3 linked regions of the Homo sapiens genome follow. The protein of the gene in region 1 purifies or fractionates together with the protein of each later gene. This does not show direct contact. Each region holds a gene or a part of one and is shown on either strand. Other genes may lie near its edges.

Evidence for each region. Proteins that work in one complex are often made in the same cells at the same time.
Region 2: the proteins of RPA4 (region 1) and PARP2 purify together in Homo sapiens (affinity purification with mass spectrometry; 3 studies listed by BioGRID and IntAct, with this or other methods). This does not show direct contact.
Region 3: the proteins of RPA4 (region 1) and HMCES purify together in Homo sapiens (affinity purification with mass spectrometry; 3 studies listed by BioGRID and IntAct, with this or other methods). This does not show direct contact.

The regions. Positions count from the first base shown.
Region 1 is NC_000023.11:96,878,759-96,886,335, reverse strand, and holds RPA4 (replication protein A 30 kDa subunit), read right to left. Parts: upstream 2,429-7,577; 5' UTR 2,026-2,428; coding exon 1,240-2,025; 3' UTR 869-1,239; downstream 1-868. Other genes in the region: DIAPH2 (protein diaphanous homolog 2), read right to left, coding at 4,618-4,757.
Region 2 is NC_000014.9:20,338,388-20,346,773, forward strand, and holds the start of PARP2 (poly [ADP-ribose] polymerase 2), read left to right. Parts: upstream 1-5,247; 5' UTR 5,248-5,254; coding exon 5,255-5,300; intron 5,301-6,544; coding exon 6,545-6,700; coding exon of another isoform or gene 6,701-6,739; intron 6,740-7,006; coding exon 7,007-7,077; intron 7,078-8,386. UniProt on the Homo sapiens protein: Poly-ADP-ribosyltransferase that mediates poly-ADP-ribosylation of proteins and plays a key role in DNA repair.
Region 3 is NC_000003.12:129,288,404-129,296,008, forward strand, and holds part of HMCES (abasic site processing protein HMCES), read left to right. Parts: intron 1-450; coding exon 451-594; intron 595-2,275; coding exon 2,276-2,401; intron 2,402-7,605.

The DNA.
Region 1 (7,577 bases):
ATATGAATATACATATATAAAATATAACATATATTCATTAAAAAGTATATGTTTTTTATTTCCTCTAATGTAAAAAAATTAGCATCTTGAAAGACACCATCTTTAGTGTATAGGTAACTGAGGGCTTTCGTTAATGGTCAATTATTTAAAAGTCTCACATAATTTATATAATCTACACTAAAATGTATTGTTAGAACTAGGCTATAGCATATGTTCTGGGTATTTTATATATAGAAAAGAAAAAATTCTGGATAAGTGAAACTATTAATCCTCAAGGATATAAAACAAAAAGGCTTTTTCAAATGTACTTAGAAAAAAAAATCACACAGGAAAGTTAAGATTTTGTAAACTACTTTAATAAAACATTTGAATAAATTTGTGTTAAACTCAGTAAGTTTCATATTCCTATGAGCTGTTTCCCTAACGTCCTAAAAATTACCTTTTTATACATAAAACAGAGCATTTAGTAAAATAAATAATACACCAGCACATCAAACTTACAGAAACTCTGGCATCCATTTACCATACAACTACAATAAATTGTAATTTCATCCAAATACCACATCATATATGAAATAATCATTGAACTTCACCACATTTTAAAAAATTTCAAAGATAACCTGGCAAAAATGGTTTATTTAAACACAGTATAATCTTATTTTAAGAAAACATAAATTCATAGTAATAAGAGCAAATCACACATAAATGTTTGAACTGAGCATTAGAATTCACAAATTAGTATCTTCAGCTCATTTGAATTAATCAAATACTAAATACTATATTGAGCAAGAGATAACAGTATCATTATAATAAGCTAAATCCAAACACGGAAAATAAGTCTAACATAAAAACAAGCAAGACTTTTTTTTTTTTTTTTTTTTTTTTTGTCTTTTCGCTGGCTCCCTGACTGCAACTAGTTTTTCTTTTGGAAAAAGAAGCTCCAACACAATTAAATAATAAATTTCTACATTTTCTGTAGTTTTTCTTCCCCGAAAATCATGTTTCCATTAGCTTGCTAGTAAATCCTACAGAGTTGTCAATTTATCCATCACCGTCTCTCTCTGAGCTTCAAATACAGAAAATCCGAAAAGTTCAAAGCAGTTAGAAAAGCAGCGAGTTGACAAAGAATGCCACTTGAGATTTTTTTTTTTAGTCCTACTTCCTAAAAAGTCAACAGGTCAAAATTACTCACAGCTGGATGCAAGGGTCTTCGAAAAATGAAAGGATGTTTTCCCTGCCTCAATCAGCAGACTTAAAATGCTCCCGATCCACAGTGGGATAGATGTGGCCCTCAACGGTCAGATAATCAATCGCTTCCTTGATGGCCTTGACGCTAAGGTCGCAGAGCTGAGCCCGGAGCTCATGGATGCTCTTCCCTTCCTGATGAGGACACTCATGAATCAAACGCAGCACTTCGTCCTGGATGAAATTGCGGTGACTCTCATCGTTATCCCCAGCATCATTCACTTCTGATGGAGACACAGGCACACTTTCTACAGTGGTATCACGACGGGCTTTATCCAGCATCATGTGTGCATTGACCGTTTCCAGAATATGCACGGTGAACTCGTTCATGTCCTCTAGGACATGAATTTTCAATACCTCAAGGCTCTTTGTTCCCGTGGGACATTTGAGGATACCAAACACTTTGACATATACTCCGACTGACAATGGAGTCACCTGCTTGACTTTCTCTCTACCAAACCACTGTCGGGCCTCGATTGGTTTCGCGGTCATATCATCAATTTTGTAACAAATGTGATTTGAAGCCTTCTCTGCCCCTCTGATTACCCCCACGATGGAGACCTGGGAAACTATAATTCCCCTAACCTTGAACACAGGGTCAAACACAGTAGAGCTGAGAAGCTGGTTCACATTACACGGTACAACGTCCTGAATTCGGACCTTAGGTCTTTGGGTCTTAATAGCAGGAGTTGCATCTCTCTCACACAGTTGGTCACTGCCTCCACTCGCTCCATCAGCAGCAGAAATGCTGCCATAGCTCCCAAACCCACTCTTACTCATCTTCAAGACAGCTCAGGCTGAGGAGAAGGTGGGCTTTGGCTCGTCTGGGGCTCCACGGACGGCTTTGAGTTCTCCACAGAAGGCTTCGAGCTCTCCACAGAAGGCTTCGAGCTGTCCGAAAGGCTACGATTGAATGCTGGGAGGCTGAGGACGTGACAAGCGTCACGCTACCTGTGGACCAATCAACTACCAGAATGCATCTGCTTCCAGCCAGTCAGGGTCGGCCACCTTCTCACCTGATCGCATAATCCTTCCCTGTGTGTCAGTGGTTGCTACATTCTAAAAGTCCCACACGAGGGGAGCCCTGTTGCTTAGCTGGTCAAAGCGCCTATCTATTAAAAGTCCCACGTGTAATTTCAAGCAAGCCTTTCCCAACATCTCTATAAAAATGCATTTTTACTAGCCCCCCTCTTTATTTCTTAATGCTGCAACTTCTACAATTACTTTTAAAAGACTCATTTATTCATTCATTCAAACAACAATGCAACAGAAATTTTAGGAGCACAAAGTGCTTGGCAAAACGGTAGAGTGCTGTACGTTACGTGCAGGGGGGAAAAATGCACCACCGTAGTTACTGTTCTCAAGAACTCACGTCCCCTGTTCATTCAAACCATTAAAACTAGGAGCATCAGGCCGGGCGCAGTGGCTCACGCCTGTAATCCCAGAACTTTGGGAGGCTGAGGCAGGTTGATTACTTGAGGTCAGGAGTTCGAGACTAGCCTGCCAACGTGGTGAAATCCCGTCTCTACTAAAAATACTAAAATTAGCCAGGCGTGGTGGTGCAGGCTTGTAATCCCAGCTACTCGGGAGGCTGAGGCAGGAGAATCGCTTGAACCCAGGAGGCAGAGGTTGCAGTGAACCGAGACAGCACCACTGCACTCCAGCCTCGGTGACAAGAACAAAACTCCGTCTCAAAAAAAAAAACAAAAAACAAAAAACAAAAAACCTAGGAGCATTTTGGAAGAAATGGCAAGACAATCGTCTTTCAACGATTATCATACTCTAAGATAAGTCACATCTTAACACTGGCTTTTAAAAAATTTTTTGTTGTTTTAAAATTGTAATTTTCTGGGCATTTTGCCAAGTGCACTATAAATAAGTAATTAATATATTTCAATTTATACATAAATCCAAACTGAATGACTGAGCTCTAAATTATTTTCAAGGCTCTGTGGACAGGACAGAAAAGTACAAGACTTAGACCTATTATATATTAGGAAAAACATGGATAAAATCACAGTAAGTTTTTTATATACTCTTATGGAGTAAATTCTGAACTTAAGATTCTAGTAGTTACATAAATAGATCCCGGATTTTTGTTTTTTTGTTTTTTTTTTTTTTTTTTTTTTTTGGAGACAGGGTCTCGCTCTGTCTCCCAGGTTGGAGTGCAGTGGCGGGATATGGGCTCACTGCAACCTCCACCTCCCGGGCTGAGGTGATCCTCCCACCTCAGCCTCGTGAATACCTGGGACCACAGGCGCACATCACCACACCTGGCTGACTTTTTTGTATTTTTGGTAGAGACGGGGTTTCACCATGTTGGCCAGGCTGGTCTCGAACTCCTGGACTCAAGCGATCCACTTGCCTCAGCCCCCTGAAGTGCAGGGATTATAGGTGTGAGCCCCCACGCCCGGCCAAGAATGTTTTGATATTTTATTGAAATTTTATTTTTCTTTATAAAACATTTTATTTTGGGTGTTATTGATTTAAAGGCTTAATAAAGGAACCACAGTTACTGGAATCCACCATTGGCAAGTAACCTAATAACAATCCTTTGTAGTTAGTTAATAGCCTAAATTAGTAGAGTTTTGAGAAGTTTATTAATGCTCTCACTTCTTTTACTGGTTAAAATAATTCACTTTTTGCTATCTCAAAATTACAGAAATATGTGAAGAGTATATCTAAAACTTATAGAAGAACATAAAGTTATATATACCTTTCAAGTTTTAAAAGAATAAAATCGGCCGGGCGCGGTGGCTCACACCTGTAATCCCAGCACTTTAGAAGACCAAGGCAGGTGGATCACGAGATCAAGAGTTCGAGACCAGCCTGGCCAATATGGTGAAACCCCTTCCCTACTAAAAATACAAACATCAGCCAGGCATGATGGTGCGTGCCTGTAGTCCCAGCTACTCAGGAGGCTGAGGTAGAAGAATTGCTTGAACCTGGGAGGCAGAGGTTGCAGTGAGCCAAGATCGTGCCACTGCACTCCAGCCTGGGCAACAGAGCAAGACTCTGTCTCACAAAAAAAAAAAAGAATAAAATCATGGAGCAAATATACTTAATTTGCTTTATAAATAAATATATAATAATTATCTGATCCCACAAATAGATTTCCATGTAAATGTGGATATTTAACTTCTGGCTCTATGTTAACATTTGTATTCTTAAAATTGTACATTACTAGAGATCCAACTAACTAAATATATTTTTAAAAGTTTACGACTTCACAATCAGATGCTGCTGTTTTATTAACATCAGATTTTTAGTCAGGAAATCTTGAGGTTTAAATAACAAAACTTATTATATTCCCAAACAATTATATGCACTACAAATTGTATGAATCATACCGAAATGATAAGAACGACTTACCTGACCGGATTGCTGGTTAAAGAAACCCTGAGGGATTCTAGGCAATTAAGAAGTTTCTCATCTGATATACCCGATCGTAATTCATGAACATATTCTTGTGAAGACAGGGTGCATTCATGTTTGCTGTTTTTCAGCCCACCCTATAAAATAAACAAAGAGACCATTTTAGACAATGTTTCAAAAAAAATTTAAGTAAAATAATGCATAGAATATTTATTTTGTTATATAAAAATGTGTGCAGAGTGCTACACACTTAAAAATTCTTGATCACAGAATTGATATAGTAAAATTGTGTTGTATATATCTCAACATTTTCCTCAACCTCATTTAAAAAAAAAATTACAGTGCTGGTGCTCATGACCTGAATAGAATATGAACTTGAATTACATAAAGTGTCATTGACAGGGGTGCTTAAATTTACAATTCAGGCATTAGAATTAATATTAGCTAGTCCTCCTTAACCCAGAGGATAAGCATTCAAAAATCATCTTATTAATTTTCCTAGTTAAGATATGTATATTCAATTCCACAAAATCCAGCAAATAAAATTTAATATATACCATTATACATAACCCAAATCTATTGAAAGATATCAGAGTATCAGCCTTTCTAAAAAAAATAAGTGAAAACAGTTATTAAAATGTAAAACAATATAGTCTCCAATTAGCATGTTAATTAATCAAATCAGTTGAAAGCATTCACCAGTTCCCAATTATTCCTTTCTGGTACTCTCAGGTTGTAGATTAATCTTAAAAAGTCATTAAATACATTTATCTGATAGTGACTAGTTTTTAACTTAACTTTCAATATAGATGGAGTTGTTTCTAGAACTCATCTCATCACAGCTCCTTAACTTCATCATCTTGCTATAACTATATAAGTAGTTCAGGGAAAAGGCTGGGAGGAAAATATTGTCAACACATTCACTATACTAACAACTGATAGTTTCACATTCTAGACGTACCTAATCATAATTGCCCCTTTCCTATACTGTAAATGTATATCCCTGAATTAAGACTCCAAGCTTGAGTCCCATTTTACAGGTTCATAAAAATTACACTCAGTTTCTGCTAAGCATCTAAGGATACTTACTATAAAATAACATCATAAGGATATACTATCATAGGAAATATAATATTATAAGGAGATCATAAGGAAAGGAATTTTTCCCCATTGGGTAGAGGTATTATCATTAGAGGATATGACATTTAAAAAAATGTTAATAATGAGAAATGAGTTCCCTATGATTTCACACTATTTGGGTTTTTATTGAGAATGCCTCCTCAATGTAGAAAGTGTTAATCATTCTTAATTTCTGAATTTCAAAAATCCCATTAGATGCTAAATTTTTAAAGTCTGATAAAGGCTTATAACATATAGGGGAACTCTATTCCCTTAGCGCTGTGGCAATATTATAATTATTATAGCACTTAAAATATTGTGGTAGAGGTCATTATTTGTGTCTGTCTCACTTCTACATTGGGAACTCCATCTATGCCACATAACTAACACCGGTCATGAATTTAGTGAGCTTCAATAAAAGTGTGTTATTATTGAACTTCTCCATAATAACTGCAGAACAAGGAATACGATTTCATACTTTGAGCTCCCATATTTTGTATAATGGCCACTGACTTGGTATTTCTTGCTTCGTTATGAGACACAGTAGACGTTAAAAATATACTGGATGGGCCGGGGACGGTGGCTCATGCCTGGAATCCCAGCACTTTGGGAGGCTGAGGCGGGTGGAACACTTGAGGTCAGGGGTTCGAAATCAGCCTGGCCAATGTGGTGAAACTCCATCTCTACTAAAAATACAAAAATTAGCTGGCATGGAGGCACATGCCTGTAATCCCAGCAACTCGTGAGGCTAAGACACGAGAATAGCTTGAACCCGGGAGGTGGAGGTTGCAGTGAGCTGAGATCCCGCCACAGCACTCCAGCCTGAGCCACAGAGCAAGACTCCGTCTCCTCCACAAATAAAAAAGTATACTGGATGAATCATCATCACCTAAATGGCACAGTAAGTAAAACCATCACCGAGAGATCATGTCCATATTCCTGTAACTTCCTTATCCATCTATTATTTCACAAGGAATAATAGCAAGTAAATATTTAAAGCATAATTTTGCAAATTCAAAATTATAGTTTTATTTTTGCTCGGCCAACTCACTTTCTACAACAACACAAAGTTCATCAGTAACAAGGGATCTATTTACTACATGTGCCAGTCTGAAAACTACTAGTAAAACGAATTAAAATTTTCAAGTCTGTAGTCACATACCGCTTTCATATAATCCTCAAAGTTATTTCTAAATTAATATATAAAAAGGCACCACTAATCTTCCCCTAGAGGATTGTATATGGAATTTAACCCTGTTGCGTGACCTTTGTATTTTGCAGTTTTCTCTGCCTTGAAGACCCTTATCCCAACCTCTCCATTGCTGGCTCCCATCATTTTAATCTCAGCTCCATAGTCTTCTCCCCACCCCACATTCTAGTTATCATCGCAACACCATTTTAAATATCATTTACAGTATTACCTCTATGAAAATTTATTTTTGTAATTTAGTTGTTTACTGTCTTCTGCGCTAAAACATAAGCTCTTATGACAGGATTCTTGCCTGCCTTGTTCACCACTATATCCTCAGATCTTAAGACAGTGCTTAAGTAAGCATTCAATACATATTTCCTGAATGAATGAATGGATGGATGGTTGGGTGGATGGATGGATAGAGAATAAACAAAAGGGTAGATGAGTGATGAGTTTCAACATGCTGAAGATTCTAAGCTTAGTTTTGCTTCAGAATATTATAGTTCTGAGACTTTCAGTTGTAATATATTCAGAGATGCTGAATATAGAACAGGTAAACTGAGACACTGTATGGTATGCTGAGGACAGCTCAGAGGTATTTTATATTGGGCATCTCATGGACACAGAATAATCTACTGAGAAAATG
Region 2 (8,386 bases), on another chromosome or scaffold:
TAGAAGGTTCTCATCAACATCCCTTTCCTAGCTATTCCTGAAGACATGTATGCAAATTCCTTTAAATGGTGGTCCTGATCCGCAGCTTTGCTGATCACTTTTGGAAAATTGGCAAATAATAAATTTGGAAATTTGTTTATAACATCAGGCAATATAATATATAAATAAATATAAATAAGTTTGGAAACATATTTATAACATCAGGCAATATAATAAACCATACTTGTGGAATTTCAAAGCTTTTAAAATCTTACTAGTTTCCTTCAATTACTGATCTTTTTGATTCTGAATTTCTTTTTTAAACAACTCTCAAGATCCACCTCTTTGAATAAGGTAGGAAAGAGAAATCCTCAAGACAGTGAAGTTCAATAAAGTCTCACCTTTCCTTCAGAACCCACCCTCTTTTTCAAGTCATACCCCTTGCTCCTTGACACCCTGTCTTATTTAGTATCTCATTCAACAAATATCATTGAAAGCTAGATACTGTTCCAGGCATTGGTTACAGAGCAGGAAACAAAATACACAAAGCCCTGGCTCACTTGGAGCTTACAGTCTATTGGAGAGAGTCAGATCTCCTAAAAATTAAACAAATATATGTTAAGTTGTAATTAGTACTCTGGAAAAAAATAAAGCAGAGTAAGAGGCTACAAGTGATAATGGGAGTGATGTTATTTATATCAAGGAAGGCACCACTGCTACTAAGAACAAAGACCTGAAGAAAGTCAGGGATCAATCTTGTTAGCTGGAAGAAGAGTAGACCAGGTAGAGAGAACAGAAGCCTGTAGGGAGAAGAGTGACTGGTATGTTTGAGACAAAGTGGAAAGAGGCCAGAGTGCCTAACAGGAGTAAGCAAAGGGAAAAATAGTAGCAGATGAAATCAAAGCACTGGGGTAAGAAGCAGATCATATAGAGCCTGGTCAAGCCACAGCATTTGAGATGGGGAGCCACTGGAACAAAAATCTAACATGATCTAACTTTCATTTTATTTATTTATTTTTAAATTTATCTTATTTTTTAGACAGGGTCTTACCCTATTGCCCACACTGGAGTGAAGCAGGGGAATTGCTTGAAACCCGGAGGCAGAGGTTGCAGTGAGCTGAGATCACACCACTGCACTCCATCTGTAAAAATAAAGTAATTCTAGATAACGTGATGTCTTATCAGAAAATACTATAGCATGCTTTTTTTAAAGAACTTTTTTTTTCCTTTTGAGAAAGGGTCTTACTCTATCACCCAGGCTGGAGTACAGTGGCATGATCACAGCTCACAGCAGCCTTGACCTCTCAGGCTCAAGTGATAAATTATACAGCTAATTTTTGCACTTTTTGTAGAGTCGGGTTTCGCCATGTTGACCAGGCTGGTCTTGAACTCCTGGGCTCAAGCAATCCTCCTGCCTGAAGTTCTGACTGCTGAGATTACAGGCATGAGCCCCCACACCTACCCTAAAGGACATTTTAAAATCATAACTAGAATATCATTATTTTAAACCTAACTAGAATACCATTATAATATCTAATAAATAATTCCCTAAAATCATCCAATTTCCAGTCCATATCCACATATCCCCATTTATTGCTGGCTTGTTCAAACCAGCATCCAAACATTGCATTTGGCTGTTAGGCTTCAAATGTCTCTTTTACTCTAAAACAGTCCTAACAATTTTTTTTTTACATAATAGTATGAAGAGAGTAGGCCAGTTGTCCTGTCGAATATTAATTTGTATTTTTCATACTATGTGAGCCTGAATATCTTTTCCATGCACTTATTTATCAAATGCAAACTGTTTATTAATATCTTTCATCCACTTATCTATAGAGGTTTTGGTTTTAATTATGAAAATAAATTTGTTGGTTTCTTCCAGGCTTTTTTTGTTTTTGTTTTTCAGACAGAGTCTCGCTCTCGTCACCTAGGCTGGAGTGCAGTGGTGCGATCTTGGCTCACTGCAACCTCCGCCTCCCCAGTTCAAGCTTCTCCTGCCTCAGCCTCCTGAGTAGCTAGGATTACAGGCACCCACCACCATGCCCAGCTAATTTTGTGCTAGAGAGGGGGTTTCACCATGTTGGCCAGGCTGGTCTCGAACTCCTCACCTCAGGTGATCCGCCTGCCTTGGCCTCCCAAAGAGGTGGGATTACAGGCATGAGCCACCGCACCCAGCCGGTTTCTTCCAGTTATTGGTGACATGCTTCAGTACTATTTTAGTTACACTTGTTCTGTATTTGACTATAAAGAAGTTATATCTTCACAATATATTTTCAGTAATTCTCACTCTGACCACCATAATAACTAAAAAAGAAAAAGAATCAATAAAAACTTTAAAAATACATTTTTAAAAATGTGTGTGGGATGGTAACTACTGTCATGAAACAGAATACATTAGCCTAGTAGATAACAACATAATTTGGAGTCACCCAGATCTGGCCCTGCCTTTTAGGAACTGTATATTATGAGCTGAATTGTGTCACCTCAAAATGTATGTATTTGAAGAACTCTCATTATCTCAGAATCTGCCTGTATTTGGAGATAGGACATGTAAAGGGGTAATTAAGATAAAATAAGGTCATACGGGTTGGGAATAATCCAATATCACTGATGTCCTTATAAGAAAAGGAGATTAAGGGCCAGGCACCGTGGCTCACGCCTATAATCCCAGCATTTTGGGAGGCTGAGGCGGGTGGATCACTTGAGGTCAGGAGTTTGAGACCAGCCTGGCCAACATGGTGAAACCCTGTCTCTAATAAAAATACAAAAATTAGCCAGGTGTGGTAGCCCACGCCTATAGTCCCAGCTACTCAGGGGACTGAGGCAGGAGAATCGCTCAAGAACCTGGGAGGTGGAGGTTGCAGTGAGCCGAGATCTTGCCACTGCACTCCAGCCTGGGCAACAGAGCAAGACTCTGTCTCAAAAAATAAATAAATAAATAAAATAAAGGAGATTAGGACATAGATGCACAGAGAGGAAAGACAGCATCCATCTACAAGCCAAGGAGAGAGGGAGGCAGGCCTTAGAAGAAATCAGCCATGTCAAGACCTTTACCTTGGGCCTCTAGCCGCCAGAATTACGACAATGTATGTAGTTATAGCAGCCCTAGCAATACACTGTGTGATCTTGAATAAATTAAATTTTTCTAAAGCTCAGTTTCCTCAACTATAAATGGAGATAATAACATATGCCTCATGAGGTTGTTGTGAGAATTAAATAATGTATGTAAAGCTCATAGCATAGTAAGAACTAAATAAATTCTGGCTATTATTCTTATGAAGATTAAATGAGGTTATGCATGTAAAGCATTAGCTCAGCCTCTAGTACACAAGAAAGTTCTACTAAGTATTAGCTATTTTTAATAAATTTTCATTTCATAAAGGCTTATATTTTTCCTATCTCCAAAGTATTTCCTTTTAGACCTAGTCTAATTTATTTGTGTCATAATTAAGTCAGATGTAACAGGCTTTGTACCGCTGAAACAGGTTAAGCAATCCTATCCAACAACATTTATTGAGCACTTACATTTTGTTAGATTTATTTCCAACTACTTGATATGCTTTGGTGTTATTGTAAATGCTACCTTATCCAAAAATTTTATTTATAGTTGTTTGAAGCTCTTTTATAAGCATGGAATTTATTTTCACACGCTATTTTCTATCAGTCTTGCTAGGCTTTGTATTAAGGTAAAATTTTTATCCTGTAGTTTCTTCTAGCTTTTAAAATATTCATAATCAAATTACATGCAAATAATGAGATTTTGGGTTTTTTCTTTCTAAACTTTACATCTTTTGATGAACAAAAATTAAAATGTATCAATTTTTTTTTCTTTGTTTTTTTCAGACGGAGTCTCACTCTGTCACCCAGGCTGGAGTTCAGTGGCGGGATCTCGGCTCACTGCAACCTCCGCCTCCCGGGTTCAAGCGACTCTCGTGCCTCAGCCTCCCAAGTAGCTGGGATTACAGGCGCCCGCGACCACGCCTGGCTAATTTTTCACTTTTTTTTTTTTTTTTTTTGTAATAGAGACGAGGTTTCGCTATTTTGCTCAGGTTGCTCTATAACAGATACTATGCTATCCTAACAATATGTTTCTAAATGATATTAGTGCCAAAACCAGGATTACCCAGTGATTTTGTTAATACAGGCTTATTGAATCGGAGGGTCTGGGGTGGGGAATTTGCTTAAGTATGCAGTCCCCATACTCGGTGATTCTCATGAAGCCAAACATTTGGGCGCCCCTCACCTGATGTCACCAAGAACCAGAAGACCAATTAGAATTTTCGTGGGCTTCCTGCCCCATGGTTCCCTCTGTTCCCAAAGGGTTTCTGCAGTTTCACGGAGCTTTTCACATTCCACTCGGTTTTTTTTTTTTTGAGACTCGCTCTGTCGCCCAGGCTGGAATGCAGTGGCGCGATCTCGGCTCACTGCAAGCTCCGCCTCCCGGGTTCACGCCATTCTGCTTCAGCCTCCCAAGTAGCTGGGATTATAGGCGCCCGCCACCACGCCCGGCTAATGGCTAATTTTTTGTATTTTTTTTTTTTAGTAGAGATGGGGGGGGGTTTCACCGTGTTAGCCTGGATGGTCTCGACCTCCTGACCTTGTGATCCGCCCGCCTCGGCCTCCCAAAGTGCTGGGATTATAGGCGTGAACCACCGCGCCCGGCCCGGTTTCGTTTTGTTTTTTTTTTTTTTTTTTTTTTCCAAAAATGGGCGGAGGAGAGTAGTCTGAATTGGGTTATGAGGTCCCCTGCGGGGTACCTCACCTCAGCCATTGAACTCACTTCGCTGGCCGTGAGTCTGTTCCAAGCTCCGGCAAAGGAGGCATCCGCCGGGCCCCTCCCCGAAGGGCGGGGTCCACGGCATCTCCTGCCCAGTCTGACCTCGCGCGGAGCCCCGTTCTCTGGGAACTCACCTCCCCGAAGCTCAGGGAGAGCCCTGTTAGGGCCGCCTCTGGCCCTAGTCTCAGACCTTCCCAAGGGACATGGGAGTGGAGTGACAGGACGCACTCAGCTCGTGGCCCCACTGATGAGCTTCCCTCCGCCCTATGGGAAAAAGTGGTCTCATACAGAACTTATAAGATTCCCAAATCCAAAGACATTTCACGTTTATGGTGATTTCCCAGAACACATAGCGACATGCAAATATTGCAGGGCGCCACTCCCCTGTCCCTCACAGCCATCTTCCTGCCAGGGCGCACGCGCGCTGGGTGTTCCCGCCTAGTGACACTGGGCCCGCGATTCCTTGGAGCGGGTTGATGACGTCAGCGTTCGAATTCCATGGCGGCGCGGCGGCGACGGAGCACCGGCGGCGGCAGGGCGAGAGGTTCGGAGCTCAATATCGCGGGACGGCATGCGGGGGGCGGGCAGTCAGAAAGGAACGATGCCACCTACTGTGACCCCCTTCCCCTTCCAGCTCCCTATAACCTGCACTTGGCTACCAAACCAGTTGGGGTGCTAAATTTTGTAAATTTCGGTTTTCAGAGCTTTGGGGATTACATAATTGTGCATAAAGCCTTGCGGAGCTGTAACAACTAATGTGCCAGTACTGTTGTTAATACCTAATGTCATCCAATTTACAAAAAGTAATTGTAAGGCACACCATTATTTTATACACAACAAAGGATAAGCACTGAAAATGGTGAACTGTGATTCACTGCTTATGTCATCCATTGTAAGATGCATCCCAGTTCCAGAGAGTAAAATGCGAGTCTTAGACCTATTGAGATACGGTATTATGTGTATAATGTTCTTAAATGCATAGGTGCACCCTATAAATTAGGTTCTATTGTACTTCTCTAGAAGTACAGTATTGTACAATATTCTAATATTGGAGTAAGTGAAGTAGGAAGAGATCAAATACTTCTCCAAGTTTCCACAGAGAAAAGCAGCAGAGCTAGGCTCTAAATTAGGCACAGACCCTTGAGCACTTAACTAACCTTTATCCCATACGGCCTCATGTATGAGGTGGGTATTTGGGGGACATTGGGACACAAGTAAAACAGATAAGCAGGCCTCAATCTATGAGCTTACAAGACTCCTGGGACTCCCTTTTATTTTGTTTTATTTCATTTGGCTAGAATAGCAATTTAGGAAGAATTACACAGACTGTTACACAAAAGTAGTGTGGGACAGTTGTTATTGCCTCTGTAAACTTAGAAAATTATCTTAAACCGGCGGGGTGAGGTGGCTCACGCCTGTAATCCCTTGGGAGGCCGAGGAGGGCAGATCACTTGAGGTCACGAGTTCGAGACCAGCCTGGCCAACATGGTGAAACCCTGTCTCTACTAAAAATACAAAAATTAACTGGGCATGGTGGTGCACGCCTGTAATCCCAGCTACTCAGGAGGCTGAGGCACGAGAATCACTTGAACCCAGGAGGCGGAGGTTGCAGTGAGCCAAGATCGCACCACTGCAGTCCAGCCTGGGCGAGAGAGTGAGACTCCACCTCAAAACAAAAAAAGAGAGAAAATTATCTTAAACCATTTCTTTAAAAGATTTTTTTCAATCTTTAAAATCTACACGTATTCGGGTGTGTACTCATTCTTTGCTAATTTCCAAATTCTGTAGCATTAAATGAAAGCAAAAGAGTTAATAATGGCAACACGGCTCCAGAAGACTCTTCCCCTGCCAAGAAAACTCGTAGATGCCAGAGACAGGAGTCGAAAAAGATGCCTGTGGCTGGAGGAAAAGCTAATAAGGACAGGACAGAAGACAAGCAAGATGGTATGCCAGGAAGGTCATGGGCCAGCAAAAGGGTCTCTGGTAGGAGTGGATCTGGGGATGATATCTTGTTATTTCAACTCCTATTTCGTCCTTCTTTCAGGGAATAATTAATTTCTCTATCCTTTGGGCATACCACAGCACTAATCTACTGCCTTGAATCTTCATTTTCATGTATTTGAGATGGATTGGGGTCTAAGGAAAGACCAGGATTGGTTGGGCGGGCAAAGTTAATCCTGACAAGTTTCTGTTTTACCACAACAGCTGTTTTTGATTCCCATAAAGTAGTACCTATCTGTCTTTCCTCAGAATCTGTGAAGGCCTTGCTGTTAAAGGGCAAAGCTCCTGTGGACCCAGAGTGTACAGCCAAGGTGGGGAAGGTAAGAGACTCTGGAACCGATCTTCAGTCCATGGATATCTCAGAGAGCATCCTTTGTTATAAGGACTCCTGTCTGGGATGCTGTTAGTACTCATTTTAGGAATCCTCTCCAAAATATGATGAGTGAGTAGTTTTCTCTAATGGCAAGAGATAGGAGTGGTAGGGCTTGGGGTTAATAATCAGGGTGTTTTTTAACATGGTGTGTTAGACCATTCTTGCATTGCTGTAAAGAAATACCTGAGACTAGGTATTTTATAAGAAAAGAGGTTCCTAGAGGCTGTACAGGAAGCATAGCAGTATCTGCTCCTCAGGAGACCTTAGGAAACTTTTACTCATGGCAGAAGGTGAAGCGGGAATAGGCACGTCACATGGCAAAAGCAGGGGAGAGAGAGAGAGACAGAGAGAAAGGGAGAGAGAGAGATTGGAGAAGGTGTCACAGAGAGAGAAAGAGAGAATGGGGAGGTGTCACACGCTTTTAAACTACCAAATCTTGTGTGAATTCACTCACTATCAAGAGGACAGCAGCAAGACAGTGGTGCTAAACCATTCATGAGAAATCCACTTCCATGATTGAATCACTTCCCACCAGGCCCCACCTCCAGTACTGAGGATTACAATTCAGCATGAGATTTGGAAGGAGACAAATATACAAACTATATCACATGCGTACCTTTTGTGGTTGCCATCAGCCTTCTACACCTCATTCTCTTTTTAAACCAGAAAATGGTATCATTGTTAAGGGAAAACTGTTTTCTTGTTCTAATGAGAAACTGTACCCTGGAATGGCATGAGTTACTGATGAATGGGGAAAAAAGAAGGCTACCTCTGGAATAAGTTTTCTTTAACTCAGTTAGAATCTTTTTTTTTTTTTTTTTTTTTTTTGAGATAGAGTCTCACTCGGTCACCCAGGCTGGAGTGCAGTGGTGTGATCTCAGCTCACTGCATCCTCCACTTCCTAGGTTCAAGTAATTCTCTTGCCTCAGCCTCCCAAGTAGCTGTGATTACAGGTGCCCACCACCACGCCCAGCCTGGGCTAATTTTTATATTTTTAGTAGAGACGGGGCTTCACCATGTTGGCCAAGCTGGTCTCGAATGCCTGACCTCAAGTGATCTGCCCACCTTAGCCTCCCGAAATGCTGGGATTGCAGGCATGAGCCACCATGCGCAGCCTAACTCAGAATCTTTTGTATAGTTAAAAAAAAGGAAGCATGTTTTCATTTATAGTAAGGTTACACCCAGGTTACTGGTAGAACATAGGTTTGCAATTCTTTCCTTGGGAGATGAATGTTGATGTTGCTGTAGAATGATGA
Region 3 (7,605 bases), on another chromosome or scaffold:
ATTGTTTTTGGCTGGTTGTGGTGGCTCACACCCACAATCCCAACACTTTGGGAGGCTAAGGTGGGCAAATCACTTGAGCCCAGGAGTTCAAGACCAGCCTGGGCAACATAGCGAAACCCCATCTCTATAAACAATACAAAAATTAGCTGGGTATGGGGGGGCGTGTGTCTATAGTCCCAGCTACTTGGGAGGCTGAGGTGGGAGGATGGCTTGAGCCAGGAGGTAGAGGTGGCATTGAGCCAAAATAGCGCCACTGCACTCCAGCCTGGATGACAGAGCCAGACCTTATCTCAAAAAAAATAAAAAAATTGTTTTCAAGTAGATTCCCTGTTTAAAAATAATCTTGAATTCTTTATATTTCAATACTCCTAAATAATGTAATAAATACATATGTTAAATTAGGTTAGAATTTCATTATGATCTCCTCACTAGATCTTCTCTCCGTGGCAGGATGCAGACTCATCTGAGCGTATCATTGCTCCCATGCGCTGGGGCTTGGTCCCTTCTTGGTTCAAAGAAAGTGATCCTTCCAAGCTGCAGTTCAATACTACCAACTGTCGTAGTGATACCGTAATGGAGAAACGGTCATTTAAGGTAGGTGGCTGGTAGCTATTAGTGCCCCGTATACCTCAGAAATAAGGTTCCAAAGGGTGTTTCCATCCTAGCCTACAGAGGACAACCAAAAATAAATAAATAACACAAAAAAGAATGTTCCCAGTTGTTAATGTGGAATGCTATTTTGTTACTACATAACAAACCACACCAGACTTAGTAGTGTGAAACAAAATGATAAACATTATCTCTCATATTCTCTGGGTTGACTGGGCTCATCTGGGCAGTTTTCACTTGGAAGTTCTCATGTTGCAGTTAGATGGCAGCTGAGGCTGGATGTCCAAGATGACTTCTTCACCCACATCTGACCCTTCAGCTGGGATGACTAGAACAACTAGAAGGCTTTCCATATGCCTAGCTCGAGGGTGTCAGGGTAGCCAGGCTTCTGTTACGGTGACTCATTTACCCCAGAGCTCATGATCCAACAGAGCAGGACAGAAGATATAAGCCTTTGTCTTACAGCATCACTTAATCTTGGCAGTCATACAGCATTACTTATGCTGTATTCTTTTATTGTTATTGTTTAATTTTTTTTTTTAAATAGAGACAAGGTCTGGCTATGTTGCCCAGGCTGGTCTCAAACTCCTGGGCTCAAGTGATCCACCTGTCTGGGCCTCCCAAAGTACTGGGATTACAGGTGTGAGCTATCACGCCCGGCCTACTTCTGTTGCATTCTATGGGTTACACAGAGCCAGCCCAAATTCAGTGTGGGAGGTGTCTACATAGGGTGTGAATACTGGGAAGCATGCTTCATTGGGGAGGCACCTTTGAAGACTAGCTATGACAAGTACCTATTTGTTAGAAAAGAGGTGATTGCTTTTATGTACATTATTTAATCTTTTCAACATCTATGTGAGTTGTGACTTTCTTTATACATAAGAAAAGAGAGTGGCCGGGCACGGTGGCTCACACCTATAATCCCAGCACTTTGGGAGGCCAAGATGGGCGGATCACGAGGTCAGGAGATCGAGACCATCCTGGCTAACACGGTGAAACCCCGTCTCTACTAAAAATACAAAAAATTAGCCGGGCGTGGTGGCGGACGCCTGTAGTCCCAGCTACTCGGGAAGCTGAGGCAGGAGAATGGCTTAAGTAAACCCAGGAGGTGGAGCTTGCAGTGAGCCGAGATCACGCCACTGCACTCCAGCCTGGGCGACAGAGCAAGACTCCGTCTCAAAAAAAAAAAAAAAAAGAAAAGAGAGGTACAGAGAAATTAAATAACTGTTTTAAGGTCATACATTGGCAGACCTCAGATTTTATGTATTTATTTGTTTGTTTATTTATTTTGAGATGGAGTCTCATACTTTTGCCCAGGCTGGAGTGCAGTGGCATGATCTTGGCTCACTGCCACCTCTGCCTCCAAGTTCAAGTGATTCTCGTGCTTTAGCCTCCCAGGTAGCAGGGACTACAGGTGTGCACTACCACGCCCAGCTGATTTTTATATTTTTAGTAGAGATGGGCTTTCACCTTGTTAGCCAGGCTGGTCTCGAACTCCTGACCTCAAGTGATCCTCCCATCTCGGCCGCCCAAAGTGTTGGGATTACAGCCGTGAGCCACCCGCCTGGCCCAAACCTCAGATTTTAATTCAAGTTCTCCAAGTAATGGCAGCCTGTGAAACATGATTGTATCACTAAGACCATATCTTGCTCACATTTTCCCTCAGGTGCCTCTGGGAAAGGGAAGACGCTGTGTCGTTTTAGCAGATGGATTCTATGAGTGGCAGCGATGTCAGGGAACAAACCAGAGGCAGCCATACTTCATCTATTTTCCTCAAATCAAGACAGAGAAGGTATCATTATCAGCATTCACAATATATATTTGGAAAGGCACAGGGAAACAAATTAATCCAAAGGACATTTTTTTCTTCCCCATAGTTTTATTTATTTATTTTAAAATAACAGCTTTGGCCCAGTGCGGTGGCTCACGCCTGTGATCCCAGCACTTTGGGAGCCCAAGACGGGAAGATTGCTTGAGCCTAGGAGTTTGAGACCAGCCTGGGCAACATGGTGAAACCCCGTCTCTACAAACAATACAAAACTAGCTGGGCATGGTGGTGTGTGCCTGTAGTCCCAGCTACTCGGAAGGCTGAGGTGGGAGGATCACTTGAACCCACGAGATAGAGGCTGCAATGAGCTATGATCACACCACTGCACTGGGCGACAGAGCAAGACTCTGTCAAAATAAAATAAAATAAAGTGAAATGAAATGAAATGAGCTCATTGAGAGATAATTCACCTTAAAATTCACCTTTTTAAAATGTGCAATTCAGGAATGTTTTAGTATGTTCAAAGTATGCAATTATTACCTCTATTTTTAGAATATTTTTATCACTCTAGAAGGAAACTACATATCCATTAGCAATCACTCTTTATTCTCCACTATGCCCAGCCCCTGTCAAACACGAATCTACTTTCCATCTCTGGATTTGCCTATTTTGGACATTTCATAAAAACAGAATCATAGAATATGTGGTCTTTTGTGACTGGCTTCTTTGATTTAGCATAATGTTTTCAAGATTCATCCATGTTTGGCATGGATCAGCACTTCATTCCTTTTTGTAAGAACAGACCACATTTTGTTAATTCATTCATCAGTTGATAGACACTTGGATTGTTTCCACTTCTTGGTTATTATGAATAATGCTGCTATGAACATTCATGTACAAGTTTTGCATGGATTTGTTTTCATCTCTCTTGGATAGATGCCTAGGAGTGGAATTGCTAGGTCATATTACAACTCTACGTTTAACATTTCCTTCATAAAACTTTCACTGTGGCTGGGCGCAGTGGTTCAGGCCAGGCACGGTTGCTCATGCCTGTAATCCCAGCACTTTGGGAGGCCAGAGCAGGTGGATTACTTGAGCTCAGGAGTTCAAGACCAATCTGGGCAACATGGCGAAAACCCATCTCTACCAAAAATACAAAAAATTAGCTGGGCGTGGTCCCAGCTACTTGGGAGGCTGAGGTGGGAAGATGACTTGAGCCCAGGAGGTGGAGGTTGCAGTGAGCTGAGGTCGTGCTACTGTACTCCAGCCTGAGTGACAGAGTGAGACCCCATCTCAAAAATGAAACAAAAACCCTTTCACTGTAAGACATAATTTGAACTGTTCATGTTAAAACATTATCAGGAGATTGAAAACAAATCTGACATGCCAACATCATGTTTTATTTTTAATTAGATTATTTAGTCTGACACTGCTAAAGCACCTGAGTTCTTAGCAGTTTGCTTGTTAAAATTGGGAATTGTTTGTTCACCTGTCATCTCATTTTGGGGACTGGAAATAGTGTTACCGAGTAAAAGGGACTTGCTACCCAATGTGCTAGAAGCCAATACCATGATACTGAGTAGCTGGTCCCAGCTACTTGGCAGGCTGAGGTGGAATGATAGCTTGAGCCTGGGGTGGGGAGTGGAGGGTGCAGTGAGCCGAGATTGCACCACTGCACTCCAGCCTGGGTAACAGAGAAAAGTTTTTTTTTTTCTTCTTTTTTTTTTTTTGAGACAGAGTCTCTCTCTGTTGCCCAGGCTGGAGTGCAGTGGCGTGATCTCGGCTCACTGCAGCCTCTGCCTCTCGGGTTCAAGCGATTCTCCTGCCTCAGCCTCCCAAGTAGCTGGGACTACAGGCGTGTGCCACCAGGCCCGGCTAATTTTTTGTATTTTTAGTAGAGACGCGGTGTTAGCCAGAATGGTCTCAATCTCCTGACCTTGTGATCCACCCGCCTCGGCCTCCCAAAGTGCTGGGATTACAGGCGTGAGCCACTGCGCCTGGCCGAGAAAAGTTTTTTATTTCAAGTCGACTAACAAGAAGACAGGAGTCCAGCTCAACTCTGTCTCCCTAGCTGGCTTTAAGGAGTACTTTTATTAAAAAAATGTTTAGGGAGTGGATTCTGGGATTAGTAGGTGATTGGTGGAAGGAAAGGGGAGGCCTGGAAAGTCTTCAGGTATGTGCAGTTATCTCTTCCTGCCTCCATATAGGTCTCATGTGCAAATTCAGGGGGAGTTAGTGTGAAATGTGGTGGAAATTCAGGCTGTGATATAAGCAAGCTTGTTTTGCATATACTCTAGTCAGTTATTGGTTCCAACCAATTCAGCCAGTTTTGTTATCTTACAAGCGGAGGGAGTTTCACTGTTTCAGCAAGTTATTTTCTTATGTGCTATCCTGTAAGCCCAAGAATTTAGTCATTGGTGTTTTTGTTTGTTTGTTTGTTTTTTAACTCTTTGGGGCAGTTTCAGTAGTCAAGAGAGTTTGCCTCACCCTCAGATAATTCCCTATCAGTGATGGGTGCACCAAAATCTCAGAAATCACCACTAAAGAATTTATTCATGTAACCAGACACCACCTGTTCCCCAGAAACCTATTGAAATAAAACATAAATTAAAAAAGAAAATTCCCAGTCTAGCCAGTCTAGTAACACACAAATGATTTGGTACAAGACAAGATTAATTTATAAAACATCTATCAATTATAATAGCAAATATTAAGCACTTACTACTAGTCAGTTACTCTTTCTAGGAACTTAATGTGTATTAGCTTAATATACATTAATTCTTTTTTTTTTTTTTTTTTTTTTTTTTGAGACAGAGTTTCACTCTTGTTGCCCAGGATGGAGTGCAATGGTGTGGTCTTAGCTCACTGCAACCTCCACCTCCTGGGTTCAAGCAATTCTGCCTCGGCCGCCTGAATAGCCGGGATTACAGGTGCGTGCCACCATGTCTGGCTAATTTTTGTATTTTTAGTAGAGACAGGGTTTCACCATGTTAGCCAGGCTGGTCTCTAACTCCTGACCTCAGGTGATCCGCCTGCCTCAGCACCCCCTAAGTGCTGGGATTACAGGCATGAGCTACTGCGCCTGGACTTGAACTTAATTTTTACACTACAGATAGTTGGATTTTCCTTTTTGATTCAGTCTGACAATCATTCTTTTAATTTGTGTTTAGAACATTTAATTTAATGTAATTATTGATGTGATTGGGTTAAAATCCATTGTTTTGCTAGTTTTCTATTTGTTCCATCAACTCTTTGTTCCTTTTCTCCTGATCTTTCTGTTTTGGGAATAATCTTTTATAATTGCATTTCATCTCTATTATTGGCTTATTATTTTTGCCTCTCAAAAAATGTCTTTAGGCCGGGCGCAGTGGCTTACAACTCTAATCCCAGCACTTTGGGAGGCTAAGGCGGGCGGATCATGAGGTCAGGAGATCAAGACCATCGTGGCTAACAGTAGAGAAACCCTGTCTCTACTAAAAATACAAAAAAAAAATTAGCCTGGTGCAGTGGTGGGTGCCTGTAGTCCCAGCTACTTGGGAGGCTGAGGCAGGAGAATGGTATGAACCCGGGAGGCGGAGCTTGCAGTGAGCCAAGATTGCGCCACTGTGCTCCAGCCTGGGCAACAGAGTGAGACTCCGTCTCAAAAAAAATAATAAATAAATAAATGTTTTTAGTAGTTGCCCTACAGCTTACAGCATACATTTTAAGTTAATAACATTCTGTCTTTATACACTACATTACTATTGAAAATACCTTACAACAGTATTCTCCCAGTTCCTCCTGTCTTTTGGGCTACTGTTATGCATTTTATTTTTACATATACTATAAACTTACAATACATTGCTATTTTACTGTAGATGGTCAATTATGTTTTAGAGTGGTAAAAAATAAGAAAAGTCTTTGTACACGTACCTTCATTTTAGCCATTTCCATGGATCTTCACTTATTTGTATAGATCCAGTTTTCTCTCTGGTATTACAGCCCTTCTGCCTGAAGGACTTTAATTTTTCTTGTAGTGTGGGTCTGCTGGTAATAAATTCTGATTTTTTTTTTGTCTGAAAAAGTATCTATTTCTTTATTTTAAAAAATCATCAGGGCCGGGCACAGTGGCTCATGCCTGTAATCCCAGCACTTCGGGAGGCCGAGGTGGGCGGATCACCAGGTCAGGAAATCGAGACCATCTTGGCTAACACGGTGAAACCCCATCTCTACTAAAAACACACAAAAAATTAGCCGGGCGTGGTGGCGGGCACCTGTAGTCCCAGCTACTTGGGAGGCTGAGGCAGGAGAATGGCATGAACCCAGGAGGCAGAGCTTGCAGTGAACCGAGATGGCGCCACTGCACTCCAGCCTGGGCGACAGAGTGAGACTCCATCTCAAAAAAAAAAAAAAAAAAATTCATGCTTTTTATTGATATATAATTCACATATAATAAAATTCACCCTTTTAAAATGTACAGTGGTTTTTAGTATATTCAAAACCTTGGCCAGGCACAGTGGCTCTAAAATTAACCATGCATGGTGGCTCGTGCCTGTGGTCCCAGCTACTTGGGAGTCTGACGTGGGAAGATCACTTGAGCTTAGGAGGTCGAAGTTGCAGTGAGCCGAGATCACACCACTACACTCCAGCCTAGGTGACACAGTGAGACTCTATCAAAAAAAAAAACAAAAAAAACCCCACAAAATGTTGTGCAGCCATCATCACTAATTCCAGAATGCTGTTATCAACCCCAAATAAAACCACACCCATTAGTAGTCACTTTCCATACCTCCCTGTCTTTAACCCCTGGCAACCACTGTCTGGTATTTTTCACCGTATATAAGATTCTGGGTCAGTGGTGTTTTGTTTTCTTTCAGTACTTTAAAAAAATACACTTCATTGTCTCTGGCTCTCATAGTTTTTTTGAGAAGTCTAGTGTATAACTGTCTTTTTTCTTTTGTATGTAATGCATAAATGTGTGCTGCTCTCACCACCTTCCCCTCCACCTCCCTCCACCCCTGCTTTTAAGATTTTCTCTTAGGGCAGCTGTTTGAATACATTGTGTGTATGTGTTTTAGCCTATTCTCTTTGCTGCTTGGATCTGCAGTTTGATATCTTTCATAATTTATGGAAATTTCTTGGCTTTTTCCTCTTCAAATATTTCTTCTGCCCCATTTTCTCTTTCTGGGATTCTAATGACACATGTGTTAGATGATTTAATTGTACCATCGTTCTTGGATATTCTCTCC